2 separate regions of the Homo sapiens genome follow, and region 2 is linked to region 1. Evidence: fine-mapped expression QTL. Tissue or cell type: whole blood. Region 1 holds a variant in brackets; the other region holds the start of a gene. All regions are shown on one strand. Distances are from middle to middle.

What was found. PIP is the estimated chance that this variant, and not a neighbour inherited with it, causes the effect.
Region 2: it holds the start of PRRT2, and the variant in region 1 is fine-mapped to the expression of PRRT2 in whole blood (INTERVAL, PIP 0.97).

The regions. Positions count from the first base shown.
Region 1 is chr16:29,835,153-29,843,216 of GRCh38, reverse strand. It overlaps MVP (major vault protein), which reads right to left. Exons shown (of 15, transcript NM_005115.5): 6 at 7,419-7,513; 7 at 6,259-6,495; 8 at 2,758-3,039; 9 at 1,377-1,621; 10 at 1,105-1,302. Among named protein-coding and RNA genes, the nearest start is that of MVP, 19 kb to the right of the region's middle. The variant G/A (reference allele first, on the strand shown) is at 3,833.
Region 2 is chr16:29,809,110-29,817,164 of GRCh38, reverse strand. It overlaps PRRT2 (proline rich transmembrane protein 2), which reads right to left and starts at 4,972. Exons shown (of 4, transcript NM_145239.3): 1 at 4,842-4,972; 2 at 3,232-4,175; 3 at 2,700-2,832; 4 at 1,284-2,537. The coding sequence starts at 4,110. The coding sequence ends at 2,527. MAZ (MYC associated zinc finger protein) reads right to left here. Exons shown (of 5, transcript NM_002383.4): 5 at 6,001-7,088. The coding sequence ends at 6,934. PAGR1 (PAXIP1 associated glutamate rich protein 1) reads right to left here and starts at 1,013. Exons shown (of 3, transcript NM_024516.4): 1 at 158-1,013. The coding sequence starts at 639. It overlaps MVP-DT (MVP divergent transcript), which reads left to right. Exons shown (of 4, transcript NR_186424.1): 3 at 6,992-7,130; 4 at 8,032-8,055. RefSeq lists silencers at 702-871, 4,970-5,119, 5,520-5,599 and enhancers at 1,062-1,311, 1,562-1,781, 1,674-2,303.

The sequences.
Region 1 (8,064 bases):
CCCAGTCATGAACACTGTTTCTGTACATGACTTATCTCACCCAATCCTAATAGCTGCTATTGAGCTCTGACCAATAGAGGCACTGTTCTAACACTCATTGCATCTTTTCAATGGCCTTGTGAAGGAGAAAATGCTGTCTTCCTCATGTTACAGATGGGGAAACTGAGGAAAGCACCCTGTCCCTTCCCCAGGTCCACAGGCTGCAAACAGCAGGGCGGGGGCGCAGGCCAGGGCAGTCAGTTTCTGAACTTGAGTTCTCACCGCCCCCTTGCACTGCCCACTCCCGCCAGCTGTGTCCCATGCATCTTTTAACAGCCCGACAGTTACGCATTTGGCTGCACGCTCACTGGGAGCTTAGTTGGGGTAGTGTCCTGCTACTGGATCCCTGAGTCCTGACCCCAGGAGGTGAGCCCACGCCTTCCCTGGATTTGCGTGAACTCCTAGGTTCCCTCTTGACCTCAGCACTGAATGAGGTGTCCTGCCTTCATGAGGAGCCCAGCACCAGCACTTGAGCAGGACCCTCCTTTTCTTGGGGTTCCTAGGCTGCACCCAGCAGGAACCCTCACCCACTGCTTGCCACCCGGTTTGTTTTTTTTGTTTTGAAACAGGGTTGACCGGGTGCAGTGGCTCATGCCTGTAATCCCAGCACTTTGGGAAGCCGAGGCAGGCGGATCACCTGAGGTCAGGAGTTCGAGACCAGCCTGACCAACATGGAGAAACCCCATCTCTACTAAAAATACAAAACTAGCTGGGCATGGTGGCACATGCCTGTAATCCTAGCCACTTGGGAGGTTGAGGCAGGAGACTCGCTTGAATCCGGGAGGTGGGGGTTGCAGTGAGCCAAGATCGCGCCATTGCACTCCAGCCTGGGCAACAAGAGTGAAACTCGGTCTCAAAAAAAACCAAAAAACCAAAAAACCAAAAAACTAAAAAAACAAAAAACAAAGAAACAGGGTCTTGCTCTGTCACCCAGGCTGGAGTATAGTGGGGCCATCAAGGCTCACTGCAGCCTGGACCTCCTAGGCTCAAGTGATCCTCCCACCTCAGCCTCCCAAAGTGCTGGGATTCCAGGAATGCACCCCCATGCCCTGTCCCCATTTTTACCAGTTGTAGGCCAGCTGCAGTTGCAGCCTGGCATGATCCGCCGTTTCGATGGTGATGACGTCTGTGAAGAAGTCAGGCCCCAGCAGCAGGCAGAGCGCACGGCGGGCATGGGGACGCTTGGGCCGCCCAGCTGAGAGGGACAACACTGTGAACTGCTCCTCAGGACCCAGCGACACCAGCTCAGGCCCGAAGACCACGCTGCAGAGACAGCCGAGGGTCAGAGCCAGACCCATGGAGAGCCACCCCCTACACCCTGCGCTGCCAGCACTCACCGGGCTCGCTTCTCTCGGTAGTCGTACACCTGCACCGCAGCGTTGTGGGGCACGCGGTAGCTGACCACACGGGTCTTGTTCCGGGGCGCCAAGGGCTGGAGGCTCTTAGCTGTGTCCTTCTCACCCCTGTCTGCCAGAGGGTCCTGCCCCTTGTTCAGCAGCTCCTCCACCCCGGGAGGCAGCTCTTTCTCCCACAGGACTTCGTCCTGGGTCAGCATGTAGGTGCTTCCAATCACAGCGCGCACCTTGGGACGAGGACAGGGAGGGAAGCTGCCCGTAAGGGTGGAAGGGAGGAAGATCCGCCCAGCTGTCCCAAAGCAGAGCCCATCCAGGGAAGGCGCGCCACGAGGTTAAACACCTTCTCTACGGGGAGGCCAGGCTCCACCCCGGGTTTGCCATCTGCTGGCCCTGTCATCGTGGGCTAACTACCTCACCCCTTGGGCTTCAGTTTCCTCATGTGTCAAGTGGACTTGACGGTGGCTACCTTGCAGGGTCTAGGGGTGAATGACATCTTCACATGTCTAGCTCAAACAGCTCTTGGCATAGAGAAGGTGCTCAATGTTATTTCTAGAATCTTCCTTCATGGGGCAGTTTGGAGGGCACCTCGGGGATGGTGAAGTAGGCTGTGTACACGGATGCTCCCTCGGATTCCAAGCTGGACTTCCAGCTTGGATTCTTAGAGAAGGTTGGAGATGTGGCCCGAGGTCAAATCAAGGTCAAGGTTTTAGGTGAAGCAGAAAAAAATGAAAGATTCCACCGGGATATGGGCATGAGGGAGGAGGTCCTTCCTGTTCCCTGGCCACCCCATCAGACCTTTATGCTGGAAACCAGGTCTGCTGTGGGAAAGGGTCCCTGTCCTAAACCCCCACTTGTCCTCTCAGTGGACATGCTAATATTTTTTTTTGACAGAGTCTCACTCTGTCACCCTGGCTGAAGTGCAGTGGTGTGATCTCGGCTCACTGCAACCTCCGCTTCCCAGTTCAAGCAATTCTCCTGTCTCAGCCTCCCAAGTATCTGGGACTACTCAGACCACCACCACGCCTGACTAATGTTTGTACTTTTAGTAGAGACAGGGTTTCCCATGTTGGCCAGGCTAGTCTTGAACTCCTGACCTCAGGTGATCCGCCCGCCTCGGCCTCCCAAAGTGCTGAGATTACAGATGTGAGCTACCGCACCTGGTTGGTTCTAACATTTCAAATGAGACATTTAAGGCAGAAGGATGGCAAACACTCCACGTAGTGCCCTCCCCCAACCAGACAGCCCACCTGATATGGCTCTCCATGCTGCTGAAGTCCCTGCCCACCTCTTCCACACACCCAGAGGAAGCCGCCACCAAGGCCAAGGCCACGTGGCAGCACTGCTGCTCACTCCCAGCCATTACCTTTCCGGTCTTGACATCCTGCACATAGATGCCCTCGTTCTCGTCTAGAGGGATGGCCTGGCGCTCCTCCACCACCTCCACTTTGGCAGATGGCACATACTCCAGGGGTCCGCGGATGAGCCAGTGGTCCCCAGCCTGGTGTGAGACCTTCTCCTCATCCTCCCCCTCCTCCAGGGGCTGCAGGGCCCTCAGCAGCAGCCCCTGCTGCTCCGACAGCACATACACATCCTGGATGCCTTGTTCCAGCTGCTCTCCTGGCTGGAGGAAAAAAGACTTCTCTCCCTAGTGGGGAGACGTGAGGTTAGGGTCAGTGCCTTTAGGGTTGCGGGTGCTTCCAATGGTACCTCCCCAGTCCTGTGCTGTTTCAGGCCTGTGTGGAGGACAAGAGCACCAGAAGCCCGCCCCCACCCCCACATCATAATACGGTGAGGCACTGTCTGGACTGTGAGGCTCTACACAAACGCCTGCCAAATCTCATCTGGTCAAATGTGTCCTTGAAAGATTCCATAACTGTCAGGACCTGGATCCACGCAAGCTAAACCATTAAAAATCAACCTGTTTTTTCTTCTTTCTCCCAGGCTTTGTTTTCTAGAGATGGTGTAACCTAGGGCTTGACAAACTCTGGTTTTCAGGCCAAATCTGGATTCTGCCTTTTTTTTTTTTTTTTTTTTTTTTTGAGATAGTCTTCCTCTCTTGCCCAGGCTGGATAGTGCAGTGGCATGATCTCAGCTCTCTGCAGCCTCAACCTTCCAGGCTCAAGCAATCCTCCCACCTCAGCCTCCCAAGGAGCTGGGACTACAGATGCGCATCACCACACCCAGCTAATTTTTGTGTGCTTCGTAGATGATGGGGTGTTGCCATGCTGCCTAAGCTGGTCTCAAAGTCCTAGACTCAAGCGATCTACCCACCTCAGCTTTCCAAAGTGCTGGGATTATAGATGTGAGCCACCACGCCCAGCACCGCCTGTTTCTTAAAAAAATTTTGAGATATAATCCACATATGAAATTTTCCCATCTAGAGTATACAATTCACAATTCAGTTGTTTTAGTATACTCAAAGTTGTCCAACCATCACT[G/A]CTATGTTAAGTCTAGAGTATTTTCGTCATCACCCTGAAAAGAAATCCTGTACCTAGAAGTTACTGCCACTCCCCACCTACCCCACCCACCACTAGTCTATTTTCTTTATGTGTTTACCTATTCTGGACATTTCACATAAATGGAATCATGCAATATGTGGTCTTTGATGTCTGGCTTTTTTCTTTTTCTTTTTTTGAGATGGAGTCTCGGCTCAGCAGCCCAGGCTGGAGTGCAGTGGTGGGATCTCGGCTCACTGCAACTACTGTCTTCCAGGTTCAAGAGATTCTCCTGTCTCAGCCTCCCGAGCAGTAGCTGGGATTACAGGCACCCGCCATCATGCTAGCTAATTTTTGTATTTTAACAGAGACGGGGCTTCACCATGTTGGCCAGGCTGGTCTTGAACTCCTGACCTCAGGTGATGTGCCCACCTCAGCCTCCTAAAGTGTTAGGATTACAGGCGTGAGCCACTGCGTCCAGCTGGCTTCTTTCACTTAGCATAACATTTTCAATTTTATCCATGTTGTAGCACGTATGTCATTATTTTTTGTTTTTCCTAGAGACAGGATCTCACTCTACTGCCTCAGGCTGGAGTACAGTGGCACAATCATAGCTCACTATACACTCCACTTCCTGGGGTCAAGCGATTTTCCCACTTTAGCCTCCCAAATAGCTGGGACTACAGGTGTGCCACCATGCCTGGTCAATTTTTAAAAGTTTTTGTAAAAATGGGGTCTCACTATGTTACCCAGGCTGGTCTCAAACTCCTGGCTTCAAGCAATCCTCCTGCCTCGGCCTCCCAAAGCACTGGGATTATAGTCATGAGCTGTTGCGCCTGGCCTGCCATTTCTTTCTTATGGCTGAATGATATTCCATTGTATGGATATGCTACAATTTTTTATCCATTCATTATATATGTACATTTGGGTTATTTCTAATTTTTTTTTTTTTTTGAGACAGTCTTGCTCTGTCACCCAGGCTGGAGTGCAGTGGTGTGATCTCGGCTCACTGCAACCTCCGCCTCCCGGGTTCAAGCAATTCTCCTGCCTCAGCCTCCAGAGAAGCTGGGATTACAGGTGCCTGACACCATGCCCAGCTAATTTTTTTGTATTTTTAGTAGAGAAAGGGTTTTGCCATGTTGGCCAGGATGGTTTCTAACTCCTGACCTCAAGCGATCCACCCGCTTTGGACTCGTAAAGTGCTGGGATTACACATGTAAGCCACCATGCCTGGCCTATTTCTACTTTTTCTGCCTCCTGTTTTTGCAGATAAACTATTCCAGGAGCATGGCAGTACTCACTTGTTTACGTAGTGCCCAAGCTGCTTTCCTGACATAACAGCAGAGTTGAAGAACTTCCACAGAAACAATGACTCACGGAGCCTGGAGTATCTACCATCCAGCCCCCTTTACAGAATGAGTTTGGCAACTGCTGGTATTCCCACATATAGTTCAGAGAGGGGATGAAGTAGGGGGTGGGAGAGGGTAAACCAAGAGGTTTATTTTACAAAAGATGACAAAGCAAAGTGAACACCAGGATATTAAAGATGTGAAATATAGTCACTGCATGATAGTTCAGTCCATTACAGACTGCACATGGTGGTCCCGTAAGATTATAATGGAGATTTTTTTTTTTTCTGAGAGTCTCACTCTATCGCCCAGGCTAGAGTGCAGTGGCACGATCTCGGCTCACCACAGGCTTGATCTCCAGGGTTCAAGTGATTCTCGTGCCTCAGCCTCCCGAGTAACTGGAATTACAGGTGTGTGCCACCACACCTGGCTAATTTTTGTATTTTTAGTAGAGACAGGGTTTCCCCACGTTGGCCAGGCTAGTCTCGAACTCCTGACCTCAAGTGATCCACCTGCCTCGGCCTCCCAAAGTGCTGGGATTACACGTATGAGCCACTGTGCTGGCCTATAACGAAGCTTTTATATTGTATTTTTACCTTACCTTTTCTATGGCTAGATACACAAGTACTTGCCATTGTGTTCAGCTGCCTGCAGTATTCAGGACAGTCACATGCTGCACAGGTTGGCAGCCTAGGGGCAGGCTACGCCATCTAGACTAGGTGCCATCTAGGTTTGCATAAGTGCACTCTTTTGCACAAAGACAAAATCATCTAAGGACTATTTCTCAGAATGTATCCCCATCATTAAGTGGCGCATGACTGTATCAGAGTTTCAGAGTCTCAGGCAGCGGGTAGCCAGGAGGCCTTCCCAGAAGGGGAATTAACTTCAGGTCTGAGGGGTAAGTCAGAGGCTGCCAGGAATCAAATGGGCCAGTGTCTCAGGTGTGTAAGAACTAAGCATGCAAAGGCACAGAAGGTGTTCCTAGAACGTGCGTCTGGAGGAGAGAAGGCAGAGGGCCTCATGCCACTAGAGGACATACATCTCCCAGGGCAGTCCTCTGTGGGGGTGTAGGGACCTCACCTTGACCACGCGCTTCTGCCCCAGCTGATTCTTGCCATCCGGTCCGACAGGGTCGAGAATCACGCAGTAGTTGTGGGGGCCCAGGGTGGTGATGGGCACAACCCCCAGCACCTCCTCGTGGACATCTGGCACGTGGGCCTCTGTGTCCTGCACTGTTACCAGCCACTCCTCCCCAGTGCGGCGGGACACTCCCCTGAAGTCCCGGAAGTTCCGCCGAGCCCGGAGGTGCAGGGCTGTCTGCAGAGCAACATGTTGGGTATTTGAGTGACCTGCCTCCAACTTCAGGGGATCTGCGAGCCCCATTGGCCACCAAATGCTCCCAATGCTCCCAGATCTCAGAGACAATTTCTACCAATCCAGGGATTGTTTTTTTTTTTTTTTAAATCGGAGTCTCTCTCTTGTTGCCCAGGCTAGAGTGCAAAGGTGCGATCTCAGCTCACTGCAACTTCCGCCTCCTAGGTTCAAGCGATTCTCCTGCCTCAGCCTCCTGAGTACAGCTGGGATTACAGGTGGGTGACACCATGCCCAGCTAATTTTTGTATTTTTAGTAGAGATGGGGTTTCGCCATGTTGGCCAGGTTTGTCTTGAACTCCTGACCTCAGGTGATCCTCCCACCTCAGCCTCCCAAAATGCTAGGATTACAGGCATGAGCCACTGCACCCGACCGGCTTTGTTTTTTTTTTTTTTTTTTGAGACAGGGTTTCGCTCTGTTGCCCAGGCTGGAGCACAGTGGCATGATCATGGCTCACTGTAACCTCTGCCTCTGGGGTTCAAGCGATTCTCCTGCCTCAGCGCCTCTGGAGTAACTGGAATTACAGGCATGCTCCACTACACCCAGCTAATTTTTAAATTTTTTGTAGCGATGAGTTCTCACTGTGTTGCCCAGGCTGGTCTCAGACTCCTGGCCTCAAGTGATCCTCCTGCCTCAGCCTTCCAAATTGCTGAGATTACAGATGTGAGTCATTGCGCCCAGCCCCAGAAAGACTATTTAACCCTTCAGATGATCCAGAATACTCAGGCAATCTGATCTCTGAATTTTTTTAAGTGACCCTAAAATTATTGCTTCTCTTTTACTCTCATGCCATTCTACCACCATTCTCTGCCACTCGGAGGGTTCCCTAGCCCCAGGTCCCTTAAACCACAGCCCCCAGAGCACCAACCTTTTCCGTAAGGATGACGGCGTCCACCAAATCCAGAACCTCCTCAAACACCGCTGGGAGGTACGCCCCTACTGTGGTGACCAGCCATTCTTCCCCTGGGCCAAGAGTGGAGGGTAAGGGACAAGGGCCCCCCAGCCTGCTCCCCACCTACCCCTCCCCCACAGCTTAGACACAGGGGATTGACAGATTTCATAGGCAAAAAGATAGCACTGACCCCAGGCTCAAGTTCCTGACTGCGGTCCTCTTATTCATTCTTTTGAGGCCAAACCCCCACCCCAGTTGAATTTTAAAAGTTTTTTTTTTTTTTTTTTTTTTTTTGAGACGGAGTCTCCCTCTGTTGCCCAGGCTGTGATCTCAGCTCACTGCAACCTCAGCCTCCTGGATTCAAGTGATTCTCATGCCTCAGCCTCCTGAGTAGCTGGGATTACAGGCACGTGCCACCACGCCCGGCTAATATTTGTATTTTTTGTAGAGATGGTGTTTCACCATGTTGCCCAAGCTAGTCTGGAACTCCTGGCCTCAAGTGATCCGCCCACCTTGGCCTCCTAAGATGCCCAAGTTGCTGCTATGCCAACAGCCTGTTCTGCCTTCTCTAAGCTCCAAAGACCAACTTTTGTCCTTCTGCTAAAACAGGCAGCAGAACTGC
Region 2 (8,055 bases), 26 kb after region 1:
CACCCACACGTGTGCTTCTCCCCTGCCCGTTCCTCCTCCCCCGCTGGCTTCCCTCCCTCCACTTTCAAAGGTTCCAGCGTCCCACATTTTCCCCTCCCTATTTCCTCCCGCCATCAGGGGAGCAGCCCCGGGACAAGGTGTAAGGGTGTGCCTTTACTTTTCCTCTTCCTCTTCTTTGGCCTCCGGCTCCTCATCGGATCTCTCCTCTTCGCTCTGGGCCTCCGGCGTGGGAGGCCGGCGGGGCAGGATCTCGGCTTGCAGCTCCAGAGTACCGTGGGCAGCCAGCAGTTCATAGAGCCGCTGGATTTCGGAGGGCGGGGGCATCCAGGGCTGCCCATCCGCAGGCAGCTCCACCTCCTCGTCGCTGCAGGGCACGCACCAGTCCTCGGAGTCCTCCTCGGCAGGCTCTTCTCCCCCAGCGCTGGGGACTTCTCCCTGCGCCTCCTCGCCCCCGGACCCCTCACGCTCGGTCTCCTCTCGGCCTCCTTCCCCCTCGTCCTCGGCCTTACCGGCCGAGGCAGAGGGGCCTCCGGTATCCTCCACGGCCAGAGCCTGGAGGCCGGAGGTCACTTCCCCTTCTTCAGACAGAGGCGCCGCCGTACTGGCCGCAGTGTCTCCATGGCCCCGAGCAAGGGACATAGGCCACTAGGGCAGGGACCCTGCGACGACAGATACTGGAGTCCGAAGCCAGGGTCCCCCAGGGATCGGGCTCCCCTGGGGGTTCGGGACCGTTTCCAGCCAATCACGCTCCCGCAGGGGACTCCGCGGCCAGACCGCCCGTCCCCGGGAGGGGGCGCTCAGTCCCCACCAAGGACCCCGCCCCGGAGATCGAGGTTCGGTACTCCGAGGCTCCCGGGCCCCGCAGAAACCACTTTCCGAAAGAGGGAAAGGGGGAGGAGAGGGACGGGCCACTCTTCTCGCTTCCACGACGCCCCTCTCCACACCCGGACACGGCGCCTTCTCCCCAGACCTTTCAGTTGTGGGCCACGTCAAGTCAGATGCCGTACGCACCTGGAGCTAAGACCCGCCTCCCAGGCTGCGCAGGGTCACGCTACGCAGGCGCACAGAAATGGCGCGGGAGGCTCCGCTCTAGGCAAGGCTACTTGGAAGAGGAAAGCGAGGGAAGGCTTGCACATGCGCGAGTAAGCGCACAGGCTTCAGCCCACAGTAAAGATGGCCACCGGGAAGTCGCATGCGTATACCACCCAGTAAGGTTCTGCCAGAAAGGCAGCACCGCCGGGCCGGCGGGACGAACGCAGGAACCAACCGAGATTGGAGGCGAGTCTCATGCAGTCTCCGTTTATTGGTGTTTCAGACTCATGCAGCATCCGGCATACAAAAAGGGAGAAATCAGTTTGATAATAGCCTTTTTTTTTTTTTTTTAAGAATTTTAGTTTTTTTCTTCCCCCAGACTTTTTTTTTTTTTTTTTTTTTTTTTTTAAGGAAAAAAACCCCCGCCAAATCCGAACCGCGTTGTAGCTCGGTCCCCGCCTCCTCAGCGGGCTGTCGCGTGCAACAAACCTCCCCCATCATCTTAGAAAATAATTATAGAGCGCGGCGCCCCGCCCTCGCTCCTGCCAGTGGGCGCTTTGGTCCTATTTTTTGGATTATTTCATTACGAAGCACGTGAATGAATCTAGCCCCCACACCTTCAAGAAAGAAACTCGCGGACTGGGGTTGAAAAGCCCAGGTGGGCGGGTCAACTCCAGCTGACCTGGAAGGGTCAGCGCCGCGTCCCTCCCTTCTCCCCTGCGTGCGTTCGGAACCAGTACTCGCCACCCTCACCCGAGTCCCCATACGAGGCCCGGCTTGCCAACTCTGCGACCTGCCAGGCACCCTTGGGTGTCCGACCCTGGGTGGTCCCAGCAGAGAACAGTCCGAGCCTGGGGTTGGGGAGCCCTCTCCCAACACTGCTCCCTGCCCCCAAGCCTCGTCTAAGTGCTGTCAATTTTGCAGAGTAAACGGTGACGGGAGGTTGGAGAAGAGGATGCTTAAGGGAGATGAGGAGGCAGGAAGAGGAAGGGGGCGGGACGTGGAGAGGAAAGGGGAGATGATAAAGAAGGGAAGGAAGAGAGGACTGAGGGTTGAGAGATGCCAAGACAATGAAAGTTGGGAGGAGGCGGCCAGGGTGGAGGTCCAGAGAATTTGGGGGGCTGGAAGAAGTGCAGGGAGGCCAGGAGAGATGCAGGGAGGCTGAGAGCGCAGAGTTGGGGAGGTGTTCAGGGAGGTTTCCAGAGTGCAGGGAGGTTTCCAGAAGTGCAGGGATAGGGGGCCAAGAGGCCGGAGGGGATGCAGGCATTAGTGCAGGGAGGTTGGAACCAGTGCAGGGATGAGGCAGGCCTACAGTTGGCAGAGGAGCCTGGCAAGATGCAGGAGCAGGACAGAAGCTGTAAACAAGGCCGCTCAGGCTCCCTTGGTCCTTAGGGGTGGGGGCCAGGGCCATCAGTTGGGCTCCCCCCAGGGGAGGGATGGGCCCAAGGCAGCTCCCAACAGGAAGAAAAGTCTTGGGATGCGGGGCAGAGCCCCTCACTTATACACTGTGGGAGAGGAGAGGGAAGGACAGACGGGGGGAGGGGGAGACAAGGAGAGACAAAGGAGAGGTAAGGAGGACAGACAGGAGAGAGCAGGGGCAGGGGTTAGTAAAGCTGCCCTTGCCAACCCTTCCATTCCTCCCCTGCCTGTCCCAAGCCCCCACTCACCGCCTAAGTTGATGACGCAGGAGGCGATGATGATGAGGACTCCCCCCACCAGCGCCACGATGCTTAAGAGCTTGGCTACCCGGCCCAGACGCTGGGCCCCGTCCACGTCCCCCTGCTGCAGGCTGTTCCGGGACTGGGGTTAGGGCGAGGGGTGGAGGCACATAGCCGGGGTCAGGAGAAGCCAGCCCAGAAGGGATCAGGTGGAAAAGTCATCCAGAAGAGAGAGAGGCCAGCCCCATAGATGGCGGGTAAGGGAGGAAGGAGGAGTGAAGGGGCAGGGGGAGGAGGGCACAGGTCAGCGAGGCTGTGTGACACGTGTTTCCATATCCCTCCCACCCAAAGGGGCAGGGCAGTGGTGGCTCAGAGGGTTAGGTCCTAGGGAGAGGCAAACAAAGGCCCTGGAATTGGGGAGGTGGGATCCATGCAGAGAGGAGAGGGGAAGGAAGGCATGATTACTCCAGAGGCTCTATTGCAGCGCTGGCGGGAAGCTGGGAGCCACAGCAGGCCTGGGCTAGGGTCCCATGGGGCTCACCATGACAGCATAAGCGAAGGCCACGATGTTGACAGGCCACATGGGGCAGAAGCAGGACAGGATGGCAAGGATGATGTAGTCCCGAGGTTTCTGGGTGCCTTCACCCCCCTCCACCCCAGGACCTGCCAACTGGGAGCTGGGGTGGCGGCTCAGGCTACCTCGGGGAGATCCTGGATGCCCACTGTGTGCCCTTCTCATTCGATCCTCCTCAACCAGCTGCTGCAGCACTCGGGGGGGGGCCCCATTGGCTGGGGGGGATTTTTTTGAGGGTGGTGAGTGAGGCTCAGGGGCTGGGCCCTCTTCCCCATCACCAGCCTGCAGGGGCACCACTGCCCCATTCTCTTGCTTTTCCCCTACACTCTCAGACAGAATCTCAGGGGTGGGGTCCTCCTGGGTAGGGAGCTCTGGTTGAAGGGCTGGCTTGGGGGTAGGCTGGGAATCTGGCCGGGGGTCTGGTTGGGGAGCAGGCTCTGGGGCTGGTTCAGGTGGGGCTGCAGACTCCAGCCTGGACCCCTGGTCTGCAGTGGCCTCTTTGCTCACTTCTGGTTTGGACACTGTTTCTTGGCATGGGTCTTCGGGGCTGCAGTTGGCCTTTGATTCCCCTCCTGGGCTTAAGCTGAGGTCTGTGGCCTGGGCTGTTTCTGAGGCCCCAGCCGGGGTCTCTGTGGTTTCTGGAGCCAGCCCAGCCTTGGGCCCTGAGTCCACAGGGGCCGCAGTGGTGTTTGGACCTGGCTGCGGGGCCTCTGGCTGGTCTGGTACCCCTGCTAGGACCTGGGGAGGGCCAGTTTCAGCTTCAGAATGGCCAGGCCCTTCGCCTGGAACCTTGGGACTCTCCTCAACCCCCTTCATCTCAGAGATCTCAGAGCTGCTGGCTGCCATCTTGAGATGGGAGAGGGGAGAGAGCCCCTATGGGGAGGATGGAATAGCAGAGACAGCGGCAAACCCTGGAAGAGGAGGAGATAGGCTTGGGGTGAGGAGGGAAGAGGGCGCTCAGCACTGCAGGCCCAATTGGGCCACATTCCTGTCTCAGGGCCAGCCTTGCACTGCCTCTAGGGAGAGGAAGAAAAGTTGGGGTTTCCTTTGCCTTAGGGTGGGACATCCCTGCGGGAGGAGTGCTCTACTCAAAGTCTTCTGCTTGGAGAGCCCTGGGGAAGATTAACCCTTTTGTAAACAGGACCTTCTCCAGGGTCTCTCCCTGGGTCCATCCAACAAGATCCAGACTCTCAGATCCCAGCACCCCAAAATCAACGAGCTGTGCAAATAGCACTCCGACAGGCCGACTGGGCAGAGGACCCGACATTCGCATTCCACTCCCTCTGCATCCTCCCCTCCTCCCTGGGCTCCCAGGCGGTGCGGGTTTTCTTGCTGCGCGTTTAGGGCGAGGACGCTCCCGCCCCTTTCTGGGGGACCTGGTTATCTCCTTCGATCCCCTGTCAGCCCCTCTCCCGGGGCTTCCCTCGCCTTCGGTGGGCTGGCGCCTCCTCCCGATGGTTCAGCCCGCCCAGCACCACCACCAGCCCTCCAGACACCCGCATTCCCGTGCAGTCCGCCCGGCGTCAGCCGTCGGTCGGTCCACTCCTACCCGCAGCCTCAGTCTGCCCGGGTCTCACCTCGACGCCGGCCTCCGGACAGCTCCCGCTGCCGCTGCTGGCTTTTGCAGCAGCCGCAGCCCGGGAGGGAGCAAGTCAGCTAGGGAGGGAGGGAGGCGGCGGGTCTCCCTCTTCTCCTCTCCCGTGTGCTCATCCCCTCCTCTCCGGTCCCCTCCCCTACGCTCCGCCGCCGTCGCCGCCCCCGCCCCTCGCGAGCCTCCGGCCCCTCCCGCCAGCCCAAGGGAGCCACGCGTTACCCAGGCAACCGGCCCGGGGACCACTCGCGCCCCCTCCCTGCCCCTTCTCACGCGCGCCTCCAGGAGAGACGCCTCCTTCTTAAGTCCCCGGCCCCTCCCGCCAACGGTCACCGGGATTCCTGGAAGAGACGGGGATTTGGGGGAAACGGAGAGGGTTCTGCGAGGAGACGGGACCAGTGAGACAGGCAGGACCGGGTGGAGGCGTCTCTACGAGCAGGAGGGCAAGGAAGATGGGGCAAGACGCGGGGAGGCTGCAGAGGAGGAGCAGGGTGGGGTTTGGAGAGAATGGAGCCTGCAGAAAGGAGCGGCAGAAACTGGCGCTGGAAGGCTCAAAAAAGGGGCCCTGGAAAGGACGGAGCGGGGACAGGAAAGGGAATTCCAAGGGGCAGGAGGAGCTGGGCAGAGGAGCCCGTGTAAACACAGAGTGGCCCATGCCCAGGATGAGGGACAGGTGCAGCTTTCATTCTCTACCTCGCTGCTCCCAGTCCTAGGGCTCGGACTCCCCAGCCTTTCCGCAGCCGCATCCACCCACCATGGCCTCAGGGCCGTGACGCGCGTGGGGAGGGATGCGGCTGGGGGCTGAGCAGCGGCCATGAGTGTGGACGGGGGAGGGCGGCATTCCCGTCTGGCAGCTCTGTTTGGGTTTCTGACGGGGCCTCTTCAAACCTCCAGGGGCTATTCTGGGCCTGTCCGAGTTGGGAATTCCCCAGAGACCTGGAACTTGCTCTCCACAGCCACAGCCTTGGCCCCGCCCTGTATCTGTGCTGCCGCCAGTAAGGCTGCCCCTGGGGAGGGCGGAGCCAGAACCTCACAGCCTCACAGGGCAGAGCAAGGCTGGATTGACGGACACCAGGCCGAGAAGAAACCCTTGGGGTTGGCGGCAGTTCTTAGTGAGGGCAATTCATTCAATCCAGAGCCAGAAACAGGATTTTATTTAAAATTTATTGTAATGGGGTCCGCGCAAAAGGAAGGGGTGGAGGGTGGGGTACATGCAGGGGACACAGGAACACGATGACATGGCCAGGGCCACAACTTCTTCTGTCGTGGGGAAGAGGGATGAAAAGACAAGACCAGGGCTGGAGCTGGGGTGGAAGAGGGGAGGGGGACACTGGCTGCATTCCCCCGCCCCCAGGAAGCACCTCTAGGCCCTGGACCCCTCGCTCACCCTGGCCCCTAAGACTCCATCTCTTCTCTGCCTCTGGCCCTCCTGGCTCTTCCTCCTGCTCCCCTTGACTTTTTCCCCTGACAGATTCTCAAGTAGGACGATGTTCAGGGCCTGACCCCAACCCCCCATACCACCTTATGAAGGTACAACCTTTGCCGGCCCTGCTTCTGCCCCTCCTCAAACCTCACCGCTTTCCCTCTTTGGGACAGCTCTGATCCCCCTCCTTCCTCTCCTCCCTCCCCCTGGAAAAAAAAAAAAAAGGAAAAGAAAGCACCAACTCCCCGGGGAGGGGCTGCAGACAGCAGGGGGAGAGGACTGGAAGGAGAGAAGAGGACCGTCGAGGGAAGAGGCTCACAAGTCCCTGGGAAGACAGGGCATGGGCTTACAGAGAGGAGAGGGGGTACGGGCAGTGGCTGCTCGTGTCCTCTGCCACCCCTGCCCACTGTCCAGGGGACTTCAACACAACCGAGGGGACAGGTTTGTGTGGGGTCAGGTCTGACAGAAGAGGAGCAGGAGAAACAAATCGTTAAAACCTAGCGAATTCCCCTAAGAAAACATTTCTTCCTCCTTTCCTTCTGGAGGCTCCTTGGTTGGTAGGGAAATAGGAGTTGGTGGGAAAAGAGGGGGGAGAGGAGCTTGTACCAAGGGACTCTACTCCATTCTCCCCTCTCCCCCGCAACCAACTTGGAGCTCACCAGGGTTGGGAGGGAAGTGGCTGAGAGCTCACAGGCACCCCCTCCGCCCCCGAGAGGGAGCCCACAGCTGTGGGAGGGGCTGCTACTGCTGCCGCTGCTGCCGCTGCCGCCGCTGCCGCTGCCGCCGCCATTGGACAAACCTCACCAGTACCTGCACAGGAGAAACACCACGGATCACAGCGCGATCTGAATGGCAAGAGCCTTGCCCTCACCCCACACCTTCCCAGCCTGCTTCCCCTGGGACACAGCCGTTGCTCACTTCCTATCTGGACCCCAGAGGCCTCAGCCTGCATCCTCACCCAGACAGAGCAGTTCTCAAGGATCCTCCCTGTGCCCAGAAGTCTCCCTAGCCTGAGTGGTACATGGGCATCCCTCGCCTTCCTGAGATCCCCTATTGGGCCCTTTGAGCCCCGTTGTCCCCCACACCCCCCATCCCGCCCCCCAGCCATGCCCCACGCCTTGCCTGGTGGGTGCGGGGGTCCCCCTCAGCAGGTGGGCTGTGGCTGGGGGGCGTCTCCCGGGACAGGGGGGGCGGCCCCCCCCAGATGGGTCTGCATGTGGCCGGCCAGCTGGGCAGGGGTCTTGCAGTGCACGCTGCACAGCTTGCACAGGATGCGGTCAGCCCGCGGGGCCTGGAGCCCGTGGTCCTTCACCGCGTGGATGCGCAGGTATGCTGCCGTGGTGAAGCCTATTGGGGGGTGGATTGGGATGGGGCGGGGGTCAGCCAGGCGGAGACCCCAGAGACGGGGCTGATCTCCTAGGCGGGGGATGCCCTCCTCAGATGGCCCTGTCCTCCTCCCACGGTATCCTTGGTAGCCTGGGGCCAACTGCTCTGTTGGGGCTGGTAGACACAGCCCCTCCCTGAGCCTGGGGCCTGGCTTGTGTGGTGCCCGCTTCTCAGCCTTGGTACCTACAGAACTCATTCTCCATGGCCGGGAGACCTCTCCCAGGATGACGAGACACTGACTCCTAGCCACTTGCAGGGTTGACCCTCAGCAGAGACGGCTGTGTCCCCTTCCCTCCAGTGCCCCGCGGTCTCAACCCAGTTAACCGGTGAGTCTGACTGAAGGCAGCTTTCTCTGCTACCCGTGCAGGGTGCGTGCTGGTAAAGCCCGGCC